Homo sapiens: one gene and its partner. Changing the gene in region 1 together with any one later gene gives a genetic interaction. Each region holds a gene or a part of one and is shown on either strand. Other genes may lie near its edges.

Region 1 (5,767 bases):
TGAACTTGGGAGGCGGAGGTTGCAGTGAGCCAAGATCACGCCATTGCACTCCAGCCTGGGCAACACAGCGAGACTCTGTCTCCAAGAAAAATCTATGTATATGTTATTTCTAGTAAGATCCTAGTTATCTTATCTGATGTTATATGGCTTCTTCTTGCTGCAAAATTAGAATCTTCCTAGTGCTGAATTATAATTTGCTACTTACTTTTTGTATTAGTGTTCTGTTTTTATCTCTTCCAACCTCCCTTCCTTTTTTTACATAGGGACATCATACATTATGATCCAACGAAGCAAGACCATGCCACTTACGAAAGAAAAAGAGATGATAAGCCAAAAGAAAGGTAAGTAGAGCTACTTCTTTTAGCAATAGGATCATGTAAATTAATCTCATTTCAGACAATTAAAAATGTAGGTAGGAACCAATATCCTACTCATTGGTCCCACTGTATTAAGATTGGTGGGGTAGGGGTAGTGCAGGTAGAGTTAGAAAGGAATTATTGATGTGGTGGAGGAGGTCTTACCTTTTAACAGAGGAATCTATAAATGATATGTACTCCTATCATTTATACCTTTTATTTGTATAAATGATGCCTTTTATTTGTACTAGTTTCTTGTGTCTTCTGTAGCTACCACAAACTTAGTTACTTAAAATCACAAAAATTATTTCTTTACAGTTCTGGAACCTAGAAGTCCCAAATTAAGATAGTGAACAGGTTATGTTCCTTCTAGAGGTTCAGGGAAACAAAGCTGTTTTATGCCTCTCCTAGTTTCTAGTGACTGCCACCAATCCTTTGGTGTTCCTTGGCTTGAGACTACATTACTCCCATTTCTGCCTCTATCTTCACATGGCCTCTTCTTTTCTGTCTCTCCTCTTTGTGCCTCTTATAAGGACACTTGTGATAGCATTCAGGGCCCACTTGGATAATCCTGGATGGGCTCCTCATCCTAGGACCCTTAACTTAATATCTCTGCAAGACCCCTTATCTAAATAATGTTAACATTCACAGGTTTCAGGAATTAGGACATGGACATAGCTTTTGGGGGGCAACCATTCAACCATCTAGTGTGGTAGGAGCTTCTGTTTCCTATAGATGTGCAGTCAGTTGGATAAACATGGCAAATATATGGAGCAACCAGTAGCAGCTTGGTTTAAATCCTTCATTTTCCAACTGCTAATAGCCACGAAAATCACAAAAGGCAGTGTGGTATCCTGAATTGAATCTTGAAACAACAGGACAATTTGTGGAGAAACTAGTGAAATCAAAACAATGTCTGAGTTTAGTTAGTGGTAATCTACCAATGTTAATCTTCTAATTTTGACAATTATATCCTAGTTACATACACACATAATTACATTAGGGAAAACAAAGTGAAGGCTATTTAGGAACTCTACTATTTTCGTTACTTTCTGTAAACCTAAAATTGTTCCAAAATTATTCTTTTAAAAAGAATCACATTTTAGACTAAAGTAGAATATTAATATTCCCTCCAATGTAGGATATATGTGTGTTATTTCAGATAATCCGTATTGAACAAATAGGATATGTTTACCCCCTCCCTATACCCCTAAGAAGTCTCATCCCTTTACATCAGCTCAAAATCCAGGATGTCATCATTCAGATCAGATCTAAGTACAGATGAGGCTTCTCTGTTATTCCTTGAGTACAGTACCTTGAGTGCAGTTCTGTTTGATAAGACCTATGAACTAAAAAAGCAAGTTATCTACCCTTCCTCCAATATAGAGCGGTGGAACAGGCATTGGATAACCACTATAGGTACTGTTCAATGAAAGAAAACAGGCACAAAGGAGTCACATGTCCATAGTAACTCTGAAATCTAGACAGACAAATGTTGGAAGGTCTTTGATTAGGACTGAGGGCCTAGGAATAATTCTTCCTGACCGTTGACTTGGCTTTCTGGATCATCCTTCTCTTTTCATAAGTGCTGGCACAGGTTTACAGCTGAGTAGTTTTTTCAACCTGCTTTTTGCTTATAGAAATTTGGGAGTCCAAAAGCCTGTTCATTTTGAAATGTTCCTGTACCTACCAGTCCAGTCTAGTGGTATTTCTGATAATATAATTCTCTTAAAATCTTCATAAGTTATCTGTGAATCTTCTTGGAATTCACTCTGTTAGATGAAAGTCACACAAATCATTTTGAGATAAGCCTTTTTTGTTGTTTTTTTAACCCTGGGCTTCTACTGAAACTGCTGAGAGATAATGCCTCTAACCTCCATAGAAGCCCTATTGTTTGAACAATTGAAGTTTATTTTCTTTTTTGTATAATCTTAGAGACAGGGTCTTGCTCTGTCACCTGGCTGGACTGCAGTGGCACAATCATAGCTCACTGTAGCCTTGAACTCCTGGGCTCAAGTGGTCCTCCCACCTCAGCCTCCCACATAGCTGGAAATACAGGTGTGCACCACTGTTCCTGGGTAACAGTTGGAAGCTTCTTATCTCTTTTTAGGGTCTTAACAAAGAATTTTGTTTTATTTTTAGACCGAGGTCTATAACTTTTTCTGTGACAGGCAAGATAGTAAATAGATAAGACTTTGCAGGCCAGACCATCTCTGCTGTGATGACTCCACTCTACCTTTGTAAAAGAAAAGCAGCCATAGACAATATGTAAACAAATGAGCAAGGCTGTGTGCCGATAAAACTATTAAAGGACACTGAAATTTTCATTTCATATAATTTTTTCATGAAATGATGTTTGTTTTTCCCCCTATCATTTCAAATGATAAAAAAAATTCCTTAACTTGCAGTTCAGACATAAGTAGGCAGTAGCCTGGACTTGGCCCATGGACTATAGTTTGCCAACCCCTTCTTTAGACCATGTTTTTCTGAGGCTGTCATAGAGTTGATCTTTGCTTAGAAGCCCTTTCTTAAATTTCATGTCATTTGCCTTCTGGAGATTAGGAGTCTTCAAAACCATGAATTCCTGGCTCCCTTTAAAAAAAAAAATTCCTCCCTTTAGTTTCATTCTCTCCTCTCTTATTTCACTGTAATCAGTAGGATGAAACCAGAATATACCTTTAACACTTCGCTGGACATCTCCTTAGCTAGATCACCCAGCTAATTAGGTACATTTTCCATTTTCCACAGTACACACAATGCAGTTGACAGTGTTGCTAAACTTTCTACCACCATGTAACAAGGATTCCCTCTTCTCCAGTTTCCAATAGGATTTACCTTATTTTTCTCTTAAGCCCTTACCTGCAACCTTCTCAAAGACCATATGGTTTCTACTAACAGTTTTTTCAAGGTCCTTCTAGCTTTTGCTGTGATCTTAGTCTCAGAAGTTATATGTCATCCCATTTGGCTTACTCTGTCCATTAAAAGAGTCACTAAGTCCAGCTCACACTCAAGGGATGAGGGAATTAACTTCCACCCCTTGAAGGAAGAAGTAACAAAGAGTTTTTGGACAAATTTTAAAGCCACCACATGGTGGTTAAATGATAATCACTTGGAACTGCCTACCATTTTTTATAGAGCTTGGTTTCCTAAGAGGCATATCTGTCTTAAAACCTAACGAGGTTGGTTTATTTACCGAAATACTAAAAGTTTCTCTCTTTGATATGGTCTCTACCACTAAGAATGGTTATTTAGGATATCCTGTTCACTTATTATTTTACGTAGTACATTACAAACTTTGGCCTGGTCTTCGAGGAAAAAGGATTTTAATATTTTCTTAGCTCAAAATTCAGTATTGGAAACTGCCAAGTAACTTTTTGTCCCAGATCAAAGAGAAAAGCATATTCATTCCTAAATACAGAGCAGATTTATGGTAATATAAAAATTTCATTTCAAAAGACACTATACATATTTATAATTAATTTCTACAACTGATTTACAATTTTACCAGTTACTGGTAAAATTCCCAGTATCTTAGAAGTCATGTGGCTTACAGTTTTCATTTTGCCTATGAGAAAACTGAGGCCTAGTGAAGCTAAGTGATTTCCTTACTTATACCTAGGTGTATAGTTTAGGCATAATTTCTGAAATGTAGTTCAGAGAATGATAGAATATGATTCATGCAGCTGTTTGAGATTTGTGTAAAAAAAGCTTATTGATCAAGATTTTGCTTCTATTAGTAGAGTTCTATATGTAGAGTTTTACTTATTTTATTTCTCTATTTATAAGTAGAGTTTTATATTCTGGTTGTTGATAGGATAGAATTAAAGTTGTCCAAGATTTTTTCTTTTCTTGATTTCTGGAAATTTCCCAAAACTTGTTTCTTTGTGATGCACATGTCTACATATGTCATTTCAGTAAAGCAAAACGAAAAAAGAAAAGGGAGGAAGCTGAGAAACTACCTGAGGTGTCTAAAGAAATGTATTATAATATTGCTATGGATCTGAAAGAAATATTCCAAACTACAAAATATACCAGTGAAAAGGAAGAGGGCACACCCTGGAATGAGGACTGTGGTAAAGAGAAACCTGAGGAAATCCAGGACCCTGCAGCTCTGACCAGTGACGCTGAGCAGCCCAGCGGGTTCACGTTCTCTTTTTTTGATTCAGACACTAAAGACATAAAGGAAGGTACTTTTCTTTTTTCCCATACTTTTTTATTTTATTCAGTTTGAACTTAATTGATTGAATCTGCATTAAGTGTAACAGATTTCATGTTAGCTGAAGAAAGGACTCTTTCTTCTACCTAGAAGATTTGAGATTTAGTGTCACAGGAGCATAAACACGATGTTCCTGAAGCTGTGAAAGAAACTATTTTTGCATTTAAGGAAGCAAATCTCTACTAGCTGCCATATGAAGGGAAGCCAGAGAATAATGTACAGCATCTTTTCTGTTAAGTAAAACGTCATGAAGAAGTATAGTAAATCACATAAAGAGCTTTGTATCTTAAATGAAGCTGAAGATGCTATGACTTATGGAAAACTAGTGCTATATATAAGATAAAAGAAGATATAGGTAACCTTGGTTTTACACAAATATGCCATGTCATCAATATGCCAGTTATTGCACAGTTTATCCTTGAAGATTTGCCAGAACCTAGAGAGAAGTATAAACACTAGTACATACAGTTTTGCATTTCATTTCAAGAGGCTTACCTCTAAAGGCCAACATGGGCCACAGGTTAAAAAACACCTGACCTGTTCCTCACCCAGGGTTCCAGCTTTCTGGAAGTTCCCACTGTAAAAGCAGGTAATACCTATACAGAAGAATACACACATACCTAACTACAATGATTCTACTTTAAAGATCAGCAGTTAAAATAGCATACATGTGTTTGGTAGATTAAAATAATTTTTTTTTTTTTTTTGGAGACAGAGTCTCTGTCACCCAGGCTGGAGTGCAGTGGTGCAATCTCGGTTCACTAGCAGATAATACCAACTCCGTGGTACTTTAAAAGGAAGTATAACAATCTAGTAGTTGTTCAAAAAGTATTGCAAATAAGACTTCATTTTCTTGTCTATATAAACTGTTGAGTAGAGTTGGCATGATGTAAATAGTAACGATAGTTTTTCTAACTTTGAGAGCAAAACGTGAGAAATTGACCTTGAAACGAGTCCTAAAGACATCAGCAACTTGAAAGATGTTTTTTAAGTACTTGGGAAATTTTGAAGACTTGTGAGGTGATTGTCCTGATCTTATAGCAGTAGTTTTTCCAGCAGTTCTAGCAAAAAGTTTTGGGTATTGAAAATGTAAAGATATATTCCTTTTCTCATTTATAAATAGACAAGAGGGAAACCTGATTTCCCTGTATCCTATTATATTTTAGGCTTCTCATGCAAGCACAGATGCCATGGT
Region 2 (4,633 bases), on another chromosome or scaffold:
CTCTGCTGAATTCCTAGTGCCCAGATTAGTGCTTGGCACATGGTAAGTGCTTAATTAAGGGGAGGATGCCAGTGTTGCTGAAGCTGAATTTGCAAGAGTCAAATTGGCAGATGAGGTTGGAGAGGAAATGGGGGTTGAGGGAGCACCAGATCCTATAGAGCCTTTAGACCATCGTAGAGACTTTGCTGTTCTCTGAGTGCTTTGGTAGGGATTTGAGGAAAGGAGTGACATCGTATGAATGACTTTATTATGTGCCCACGTGGAGGTGTCAAATAGGCAGCTATTGTGTTGCAGGTCCCCAGGTTCATTGATTCACTAAGAGGACTCAAAAGACTCAGCACGTAGTCATACTCACAGCTGTGATTTATTATAGCAAAAGGATACAAAGCAAAATAAGCAAAGGGAAAAGATGCATGGGACACAGTCTGGAGGAAACCCGGTGCAGTCTTCTAAGAGTCCTCTCCTAGTGGAGTCACATGGGGTATGCTTAATTCTTGCAGCATCAAATTATGACAAGACGTGAGAGATCTATCAGGAAAGCTTGTAGAGCTCATTTTTCCAATAAAAAGTCACATAGGCACTGTCTGCCTAGAATGTGCCAAAATTTCCGCCGCCCAGAAAAAAAGCAGGTGTTTAGAATCACATTGTACAGTTTCCAGCACAGTGAGCCACTCTTATCCAGGTGGGAATTGTGGGAACCCTCGTGAAGTTCAAGTTCTGAGACACTAGCCAAGGGCCAACTTTGCAAGCAGGCATTCTAAGGATAGCAGTCTCAGGCCTGTTATGTTAACTCGTTTCTGCACAGATGTACGAGTCTGGAATTTGGGAGAAAGTTCTGGAATGGGGATATAGATTAGGGTGTGGTTGGCATATAGGTGGTATTTAAAGCCACAGAAATGATTGATGTCTTGATAATGCATTTGTAAGAACTAATTGGGTACATTTAAGAGCTGAGCTGGATAAAGTGAATGTAGAAGAGAAGAGGACCAAAGATAGAGCCCTGGGCCGCTCCAACTTTAAGATATCAGGGAGGGCCGGGCACAGTGGCTCAGGCCTGTAATCCTAGCACTTTGGGAGGCTGAGGTGGGCGGGTCACTTGAGGTCAGGATTTCCAGACCAGCCTGGCCAAGGTGGTGAAACCCTGTGTCTACTAAAAATATAAAAAGTGGCCGGGTGTGGTGGTGGGCGCCTGTAATCCCAGCTACTCTGGAGGCTGAGGTGGGAGACTATGGCTTGAACTGGGGAGGCAGAGGTTGCAGTGAGCCAAGATCGCGCCACCCACTGCATTCCAGCCTGGGCAACAGAGGAAGACCCTGTCTCAAAAAAAAAAAAAAGAAAAAAAAAGAAAAAAGGAGAAGAGAAGGAGGCAGCAAAGGAGTCTTTTCTTTTTTTTTTTTTTGAGATAGAGTTTCGCTCCTGTTGCCCAGGCTGGAGTGCAATGGCTTCGGCTCACTGCAGCCTCCGCCTCCCAGGTTCAAGTGATTCTCCTGCCTCAACCTCCTGAGTAGCTAGGATTACAGATGCCTGCCATCGTGCCCAGCTATTTTTTTTTTTTGAGACGTCTCACTCTTGTTGTCCAGGCTGGAGTGCAATGGCGCAATCTCAGCTCACTGCAACCTCTGCCTCCCGGGTTCAAGCGGTTCTCGTGCCTCATCCTACTGAGTAGCTGGGATTACAGGCACGTGCCACCACATTCAGCTAATTTTTGTATTAGTAGTAGAGACAGGGTTTCTCCATGTTGGTCAGGCTGGTCTCGAACTCCCGACCTCAGGTGATCCACCCACCTCGGCCTCCCAAAGTGCTGGGATTACAGGCATGAGCCACCGTGTCCGGCCAGCAGAGGAGTCTTGAGAAGCAGCAGCCACAGGAGAGACAGGAAGAAAACCAAGAGTAAGGTGTCTTGGCGACCAAGTGAAGAAGAGAGGCGTGATCGGTTTTTTCAAGTGCTGCTGAGGAGTCAATTAAGATGAGGACTAACATGACCTTTTGGATTTAGAAAATGAAAGGAGTGGAATTGAGGAGAGTTAGACAACTGTTTTGAGAAGTTTTATGGTAAAGAGGAGCAAGAAAAGAGGTGGTAGCTGGGGAGGAGTGGAGGCAAGAGGTTTGTGTAATTGCTTGCTTTTGAATGAGACAAAAGTAACAGCATCCTCTCCTTTACTATAGCCACCCCCACGTTGATTCATTTCCTCACATATGCCAAGTGCCTGGCTAGGCCTTGGTAAAACACGCAATTCTTGTCATCAGGGAACTGCCATTTAAGTGGAATGTGGGCAAGTAAACTGACTGCCAGGGCACACATGTAAAAGCAGGTCCAGGGGAGGTTGAACCCTGCATCAGCTGGAGCTCAGAGCAAGAATGCCTGAGCTGGGTGCAGTGGATCACGCCTGTAATTCCAGCACTTTGGGAGGCCGAGGCAGGCGGATTACAAGGTTAGGAGTTCGAGACCAGCCTGGCCAACATAGTGAAACCCCATCTCTGCTAAAGATGCAAAAATTAGCCAGGCGTGGTGCCGTGTGCCTGTAGTCCCAGTTACTGGGGAGGCTGAGGCGGGAGAATTGCTTGAACCCAGGAGGCGGAGGTTGCAGTGAGCTGAGCACTGCACACCAGCCCGGGTGACAGTGCAAGACTCCATCTCAAAAAAATAAAAAAATGCCTGAGCATCCTTGAATGCTCATCCTCATTCATCCTTGAATGAGAGAAAAATAACAGCATGCCAATGGACTGGTCCATTATCAAGCAAAAAAATCACTGTTGTAACTTGATATTTCCCCATAGCTCGGTTTCAGGCCACCTTTGCTCTCAGAACTTTGTAGGCATCCTTGCTCTGCGCTCCAGCTGGTGCAGGGTTCAGCCTCCCCGGACCTGCTTTCACATCTGTGCCCTGGCAGTCAGTTTACTTGTCCACATTCCACTTAAATGGCAGTTCCCTGGTGACAAGGACTGTGTGTTTTATACCAAGGCCTACCCAGGAACTTGGCATATGTGGGCGAACGAGTGATTGTAGGGGTGGCTATAGTAATGGGCAGGATGCTCATTTCATTTCTAGAAATTGAATCTGCAACCATTCACTGGTTTTGGTATGTCCTGAGCAGAGGAGTGAAGAACAGGGCACTGTGTAGTCCCTATCACTACACTTAGAGTTTGGGAGATAATTTGTGACTTAATTCAAAAGTAACAAAAAAATGTGTAGTGTTGGTGCAACCAGAGTATGGAAAAGGGCATGTGGGGCATGGCTTGGTAGAGGAGGATGTGACTCGTGTGGAGTCTGGAGGAAGAGGAGACCATGACAAAGGGACAGGAATTTTTCAGTAGTAGATTTTTTTTTTTTTTCAAGTGAGCTATAAGGAACCCAGTATTCTCCAGTGCTGCTTTGGCTTGAGAGGAGCTGGGTGCCTGGTTAGCTTTCTTCTCTGGCACCCCCACTTCCAACTCAGGGCTCCCCTGACCAGTTTCAAAGTCCTGAGGCAGGGCCGGGCACGGTGGCTCACGCCTGTAATCCCAGCACTTTGGGAGGCTGAGCTGGGCAGATCACGAGGTCAGGAGATCAAGACCATCCTAGCTAACATGGTGAAACCCCGTCTCTACCAAAGATACAAAAAATTAGCCGGGCGTGGTGGCGGGTGCCTGTACTCCCAGCTACTTGGGAGGCTGAGGCAGGAGAATGGCAGGAACCTGGGAGGCAGAGCTTGCAGTGAGCTGAGATTGTACCAATGCACTCCAGCCTGGGCGACAGAACAAGACTCCGTCTCAAAAATAATAATAATAATAACAAAGTTCTGAGGCAGAATCTGGGTCCTCCCTTGTGACCCTGAGTGCCCACTGCTAACAACTACAAATGGTCATCATCTCCAGCAAGAATTAGCTTAATGTGTTTCCTCAATTTTATGTTTTTAATGAATTTTATCTAAGCTTCCAACATTTGCCAATGTTTGCCTGCTAGAAAGTTAAGCTGATCACAATGAGAGGTAGTGAGTAGCTAATAAACACAAGGGAATACGTGGCTTGACATTTTGGTATGTTTGTTGAATTTACAAGTGCACCTGATTCTAAATAGTTATTTTCTGCAAGGAAAGGTTTCCTAATGCAGGTAGCAGAGAGCCACATCATATCTAGGCATTCCTCAAAGTAAACAACGGTACGGTATAAAGCTAGGACTTTTCTCAAAGTCAGGAAAAGAGTGTAAAAAAGATACTGAAAAACATAAAAATAGAACTTATGGATGGGGAGTGTGGGCACCCAGGGTCTGACACAGAAACAGGACTACTTCCCTTCCCTAGGTGTCTCCTCTTAGGATATTTTCTAAGTTGGGGCAACAGTTCCTCCCACTCTTCTACCCCTGAAAACTATCTGTTCTCTCTGGTATTGCACTGGTTGGTGAGTTTTTATTCCAGAAAAAAAAAAGGAAAATAGATGTCAGGGTGTGGAAGAAAGAGTGCTTAACTTGGAGTCAGAACACTGATGGACAGTTCAGCATGGTAGTAATGAGTCTAGGCTTTGCAGCTCGGATGCCTAGATTTGAAGAGTATCTGTGTGACCCTATAACTGAGATGGGCTTGTCGCAAGGAACAAATGAGTTAACGTGTAGAGCAATGCCTGGCCCACGGTGAAAACAATGAGCTTTAAGGAGACT

Evidence for each region. A genetic interaction does not mean that the proteins touch.
Region 2: changes in NOL8 (region 1) and MTRES1 together harm fitness less than expected from each alone (positive genetic interaction), as found in Homo sapiens cells (one large-scale study listed by BioGRID).

The regions. Positions count from the first base shown.
Region 1 is NC_000009.12:92,300,327-92,306,093, reverse strand, and holds part of NOL8 (nucleolar protein 8), read left to right. Parts: intron 1-263; coding exon 264-341; coding exon of another isoform or gene 342-345; exon of another isoform or gene 346-346; intron 347-4,271; coding exon 4,272-4,543; intron 4,544-5,283; exon of another isoform or gene 5,284-5,287; coding exon of another isoform or gene 5,288-5,337; exon of another isoform or gene 5,338-5,767. UniProt on the Homo sapiens protein: Plays an essential role in the survival of diffuse-type gastric cancer cells. Acts as a nucleolar anchoring protein for DDX47. May be involved in regulation of gene expression at the post-transcriptional level or in ribosome biogenesis in cancer cells.
Region 2 is NC_000006.12:107,030,066-107,034,698, forward strand, and holds part of MTRES1 (mitochondrial transcription rescue factor 1), read left to right. Parts: exon of another isoform or gene 1-39; coding exon of another isoform or gene 40-42; intron 43-4,633. UniProt on the Homo sapiens protein: Mitochondrial RNA-binding protein involved in mitochondrial transcription regulation. Functions as a protective factor to maintain proper mitochondrial RNA level during stress.